Homo sapiens: one gene and its partner. The protein of the gene in region 1 purifies or fractionates together with the protein of each later gene. This does not show direct contact. Each region holds a gene or a part of one and is shown in the gene's direction. Other genes may lie near its edges.

Evidence for each region. The genes of interacting proteins can lie anywhere in the genome.
Region 2: the proteins of USP44 (region 1) and MRPS21 purify together in Homo sapiens (affinity purification with mass spectrometry; one large-scale study listed by BioGRID and IntAct). This does not show direct contact.

The regions. Positions count from the first base shown.
Region 1 is NC_000012.12:95,544,956-95,548,520, reverse strand, and holds part of USP44 (ubiquitin carboxyl-terminal hydrolase 44), read left to right. Parts: intron 1-282; exon of another isoform or gene 283-538; intron 539-3,565.
Region 2 is NC_000001.11:150,306,670-150,309,544, forward strand, and holds the end of MRPS21 (small ribosomal subunit protein bS21m), read left to right. Parts: intron 1-1,378; coding exon 1,379-1,559; 3' UTR 1,560-2,310; downstream 2,311-2,875.

The DNA.
Region 1 (3,565 bases):
TTCTGCGGCGCTCCGACCCTGTCCCGGCGGCAGCCTCAGAGTGCCCGGAGATGCTGCGGCAAGGCGCAGCGGGCTGGAGGGGGCGAGCTGGGGGAGAACGGGCGCGGGCGAGGGCTTCGGGGACTGGAAGGGGCTTCGCGCTGATCCCGGCACGAGCGTCGTGGAGAGGTGGGCGCGGGGCTGGCACGGGCTGGGCGCTGTGTGGAGCACGCAACGCCCGGGTCCAGCCGCATCCCTCCACCCTCCCGGATTACCGCGAGGTGATGCTCGAAGCCCCGGGGCACTTCGGGAGGGCGGTTGTGGCACTCGGTTGAGGAGGAATGCGCTTCCCGGCGTCTTGCCCGCCTTCTCTCCATCGATCGGTCCCCGCGCTGCCGGCACCTGCTGCCGCTTAAAGCTTGAAAATCAGCTTCCTAAAGCCATTCCCGATGGCCTTCGATGGGAAAGAATGCCATATGGCTGAATTCATTATGGGGGATAAGAAATATGTCAGTGTGCGCGGAGGGGAACCTGTTAATACGTTCAAATTTAAGAGTAGGTAAGACACCATACCCCGCCCCCATGAAAAAAGAAAGTGAACTATATAGTAACTGTTCCAAATGCAAGGTTGAGCTGTTGTTAAATTCTACTGGTAGCTCGCAGTTTTTATACTGGAAGCAAAACCATTTAGGAACCCTTGGGAGATTCACTTTCTCCTCAGACCAGTCCTCAAGTCCCCCACTCCCGCCACCTTTTAAGCTTTAATTGTTGTATCTGGGCAAGTAACGGGGATTGTGAAATTTGCATGGAAATAAGACCTTCAGGTCCTGCACTTGAATTCCTTATCTGTTAAGTAGCTGCCTGTGGGGGTGAAAGTAGGGGTGGTGACTTTTGGGCCTGGAATTCCATTTTGAGTTGTGTTCAAAACGAGCATTTGGTGTAAACAAGGAAAAAGAATGGGCTGTTCACTGTGGTGAAATGCGGAAAGCCAAATAGAAGTTAAGCACATGCTTAGAGAATATTTCATAATCTCAATGAGATTCAATATTCAGTTGAATCTTGAAAGAGATGAAAATTTGTATTCTTGGAACTCTAATCGTTTTGTCCTTAATTTAGCATCTCAGGATATTTTAAAGAGCGTTTAAATGTTTTGGCACATTCAAGTTTTCTCTCCCCATTCTATCTTTTTTCATAGTAGCCATTAGTTTTGCATATGTTCGATGTCAGATTTTTCAGTCCAGTATTTATCACTGTGGGCTATCCAAATTCAAATGTAGAGATATTCTAATATTGAACAGTTAGTCCAGTGCATACAGTTTAGAAAGCTGAAATATTTTGACTACTTTGTGTATCAGTCCTGTTTTTCTTCCCAAATGTTAATTGTTTGAGATTTTTTAGCTTAAAAATTTTTAAGTGATAAATGAACCTGCATTTAGTATAATATACAATGGTACACTTTTTGGAATATTTAAAATGGAAAATCTGTTGAAGATTTGGGTTAGATATTTGAAATAAATTTTCTACCCAGTTGTCTTTCTCCCTTTTCTACAGATTTATCTTTTCTGTACTACAAAGAAAGAAAGCGTCATATCCACTCTACCAAACTTCTCCTCTACACACTTGAATCTATTACAGCGTTTTGGTGCCTAAGAGAATTTTCTGCTCATTGGGTTGTTTGAGGGCAGAGTCTGTGTTTTATATGTGTATCTCTAGTACCCGACTAACTGCTTAACGTGGAGGAAAAACCCCCGTGTAAATTTGTTGAATTGGGGTTTTGAATGGTAGAGGATACAGAAATTTGGCTTCTTGGTAGCCAAAAACAAAACAAAAAAACAAACACGTGCTTTGAAGTCTCTGTCCTTCCTGCAGTGTTAGGCAGAACAAACGTGGGTGCCAGATTCTAATGGAGTTGTCTGGTCCAGGGAGATTAGCGAGAGGCTGGGGCACGGGCTCAGGAGTCTAATCAAGATAGGAAATAAATCGTGTGCCCGAATAATTCTCTGAATTCAGTAACGGGGGACAGTTTTGCTATTAGGCCCAGCCTAAATAGGTGACAAATAACTGAAATACAGGAGGATTCTACAAATAATGGCTTTCTGGCTAAAAGGTGATTGTAAAAGGTGTAACATTCACAGCAATTTTAGACGCCATAAAAAACTTTATTAGGAAGAATTCATTTTTAATGGAGTTTTACACGTCATAGGAAAAAGGTAATTTGTAGTCTAACGATATACTTGCTAGATCAGATCATAGATGTGCTGGAATGACAGAGTCTAGGCATTTTACACACAGAGTATTTGAATTCAATTTTTCAGACCCTTGGTAGGATGCTCAGTATTATTCTGAATGTTTCTCCCATTGTTACGAAGTTAGCTGCGGTAGATTGATGTGTAAATTTGTTGATGTGACACTGATGATAAATGTTTTGGAACAAAATTACTTGTTAAGTAGGGATGGGGGTGAGAAATTCAAATAACCCGGAGGCAGAAACTGCTTTCAGGAGCTTTATCTTACAACGTGTTCAACTAGATTCAATCTCTGCTTCAGGAGAGGCATGTTAGAGACATGAGGAAGGCCCAAGGGAAAAGGGTGTCCTTTATTGTTTAATGAGGAGTTCCAAGCAAGATCAGGGTAATTATAGATTCTAGATCTCTAAAGGAAGAAAGAATAACCAGGGCCTTTCTAGGGATAAAGGAAAGGAAATACATCATGATTGACATGGAGAGGTGCCAAAGCACATAATGGACATAATAGCATACCTAAGAGGGAGTAGGGGAGGGTTTGAGAGCCCATTGTGTTCATTCGCTCAGTAATTTGTTCATTCAAAAATATTGAACCCCTTTCTGTGAACCAAGCACTGTGCTTGACCCTTGGCGTTTCACAAACATTTCTTAAGAGGACAGAATACTATGGTGGTTCCGTGAAGTAAATGGAAAATGGAAAATTGCTTATACGAGTGGGTAAGATTTACCCTAATTACTGCAAACTATGGATAAAGTTGTTTTCATTCTTATCCAAATGCATTGTGGTGGTTAGTAATTCCTAAGGCCTACTTCCTACCGAAATTACCATTTCCTCCTATCTTTTATTATGGAAAATAACAAATCATACAACTTTTAATAGCCTGTAGAGGATCTGTTTGGTTTGTTACTGTTTAAAGAAAAATGTTTTGTTACAAAAATTATCTTCATTAAAATAGTCAACATATTCTCCCTCTGGGAGATTTCAAGTTTTTTTTTTTTCGTTTTTGTTTTTAATGAGATGGTTACTGTGACACTTTTATTTTTAAATGTGTTCTATTTTATGCCCAGTGGTACTTATATTTCTTCTTTCTTTAATAGAGTTAGAATGTATATGTGTTCCTGTAAAATATGAATGCCCATTTCTTATGAAAATCGTTTATATCCCAATTATGAAGAGTTTTAAAAATTAAACATTCACAATAAGATTTGTTAAAAACATCTTAACAAAAGATGTTTGGGAAGTAGTTAGTCATACATGAGAGTAGAAAAGTGTATATTGTTCCAAAGTTCAAAGGCTTTTATGTGCCATGTTAAGAAGTTTAGATTTAGCTTGTGGTCTTTCA
Region 2 (2,875 bases), on another chromosome or scaffold:
TTTTTAGTAGAGACAGGGTTTCTCCATGTTGGTCAGGCTGGTCTCAAACTCCTGACCTCAGGTGATCCGCCCACCTCGGCCTCCCACAGTGCTGGAATTACAGGTGTGAGCCACCAGCCTGACAGGATGGAACTTTAAGTAAGAGAATCACCTTAAGAATCACCCCTAGTGATTCTGTTCTTACTGAAAATGGCTCTCCCCAGTTGAGGTCTCTGAAATGCCCCATTAGTTGAGAATCATTGCTGTAGGGAGACATGTTCTTCAGGTACTGTATCATATCCCTCAGGTGTGTTGTGGTAGAGTAGATTTGAGAACATAACTTTGACTATAAACTCTCCAAGAGCAAGGGCCATGTAATTAATTGCTTTTTTATTTCCCCAATTTTTTTTTTTTGAGACAAGAGTCTCACTCTGTTGCCCAGGCTGGAGTGCAGTGGTGCAATCTCAGCTCACTGCAACCTCCACCTCCTAGGTTCAAACACTTCTCCTGCCTGCCTCCTGAGTAGCTGGGAGGGACTATAGGCGCCCGCCATCATGCCCAGCTAATTTTTGTATTTTTAGTAGAGACGGGGTTTCACCATATTGGTCAGGCTGGTCTCGAACTCCCGACCTCAGGTGATCCACCTGCCTCGGCTTCCCGAAGTGCTAGGATTACAGGCATGAGTCACTGTGCCCAGTCCTTTTTTTTTTTTTTTTTTTTTTCCTTTGAGTCAAGGTGTCACTCTGTTGTCCAGGCTGGAATGCAGTGGTAGGATCTCAGCTCACTGCAGCCATGAACTCCCAGGTTCAATTGATCCTCCCACCTCAGCCTCCTGAGTAGAGGGGACTACAGGCATGTACCACCATGCCTGGTTAATGTTTGTATTATTTGCAGAGACGGGGTTTTGCCGTGTTGCCCATGCTGAACAATATTTTTTTTCTTTTTTGAGACAGGGTCTTATTCTGTCACCCAGGCTGGAGTACACTGGTGCAAACACAGCACACTGCAGCCTCAGTCTCCCCTGGGCTCAAGTGATGCTCCCACCTCAGCCTCGTGAGTCGCTAGCACTACAGACACATATTACGAAGCCTGGCTAATTATTTTTATTTTTTGTAGAAACAGGGTTTTGCCATGTTGCCTAGGCTGGTCTCAAACTCCTGGGCTCAATCTGCTCACCTTGGGCTCCCAGGGTGGTGGGATTACAGGCATGAGCCACTGCACCCGGCCCACAGATTCTTATTGAGGCCTTTGTAAGTAGGCAGTTAATGCTCTATTGCCACCATTTCCCACTGTATTTTTTATAAATACCAATTGTTTGGTCAATCGACTTCTATTTATGAAACTGGAAAAGAATAATGATGATCCCAAATGTCTAACCTCATTGCTTGCCTTTATACAGAATCCTCACTATGGATGGGCTCATTGAGGACATTAAGCATCGGCGGTATTATGAGAAGCCATGCTGCCGGCGACAGAGGGAAAGCTATGAAAGGTGCCGGCGGATCTACAACATGGAAATGGCTCGCAAGATCAACTTCTTGATGCGAAAGAATCGGGCAGATCCGTGGCAGGGCTGCTGAGGCCTGTGGGTGGGACACCCAGTGCGAAACCCTCATCCAGTTTTCTCTCCATCTCTTTTCTTTGTACAATCCCATTTCCTATTACCATTCTCTGCAATAAACTCAAATCACATGTCTGCAAGAAGGCCTCCAAATATAGAAACAATCCCATTAGTCAGCAGTGGACCCTGTCTTTTATTAAGTGAAAGAAGAAACTGAGTCTGAAAGTACTCTAGGAGTAGAATGGTATTTGCCAGGGACTGGAGGAGGGGGCAGTGAGGAGTTATTGTTTAATGGGTACAGAGTTTCAGTTTGGGCAGATGAAAAAGTTCAGGAGACGATGGCCTGGCATGGTGGCTCACGCCTGTTATCCCAACACTTTGGGAGGCTGAGGCGGGCGGCTCACTTGAGGCCAGGAGTTTGAGACCAGCTTGGCCAATGTGGTGAAACCCCATCTCTACTAAAAATACAAAAAAAAATTGGCCGGGCGTGGTGGTGCACGCCTGTAATCCCAGATACTTGGGTGGCTGAGGCAGGAGAATTGCTTGAACTGGGGAGGAAGAGGTTGCAGTGAGCCAAGATCATGCCACTGCACTCCAACCTGGGCGACAGAGTGAGACTCCATCTCAAAACAAAAAAACGGAGATGGATGATGAATGGTGATGGCGGTTGCTCAAAAAGTTGAATGTACTTAATGCCACTGAACTATACCCTTAAATGGTCACGATGGTAAATTTTGTGTTTTACTACAATAAAAACTTTTTTGAAAGTCCAGGAGAAGTAAGGAATTTTTTTTTCTTTTTTTTAAGAGGAAGTCTCGCTCTTGTCCCCCAGACTGGAGTGCAATGGTGCAGTCTAGGCTCACTGCAACCTCCGCCTCCTGGGTTCAAGTGATTCTCCTGCCTCAGCCTCCCCAGAAGCTGGGACTACAGGCACCTGCCACCACGCCCAGCTAATTTTTGTATTTTTAGTAGAGACGGGGTTTCACCATGTTGTCCAGGCTGGTCTCGAACTCCTGACCTCAGGTGATCCGCCCACCTCGGCCTCCCAAAGTGCTGGGATTATGGGCATGAGCCACCATACCTGGCTGGTAAATTTTTTTTTTTTTTTTGTAGATGGAGTCTCGCTCTGTTGCCCAGGCTGGAGGGCAGTGGGACAATCTCAGCTCACTGCAAGCTCCGCCGCCTGGGTTCACGCCATTCTCCTGCCTCAGCCTCCCCAGCAGCTGGGACTACAGGCACACGCCGCCACGCCCGGCTAATTTTTGTGTTTTTAGTAGAGATGGGGTTTATCTGTGTTAGCCAGGATAGTCTCGATCTCCTGGTCTCGTGATCCCC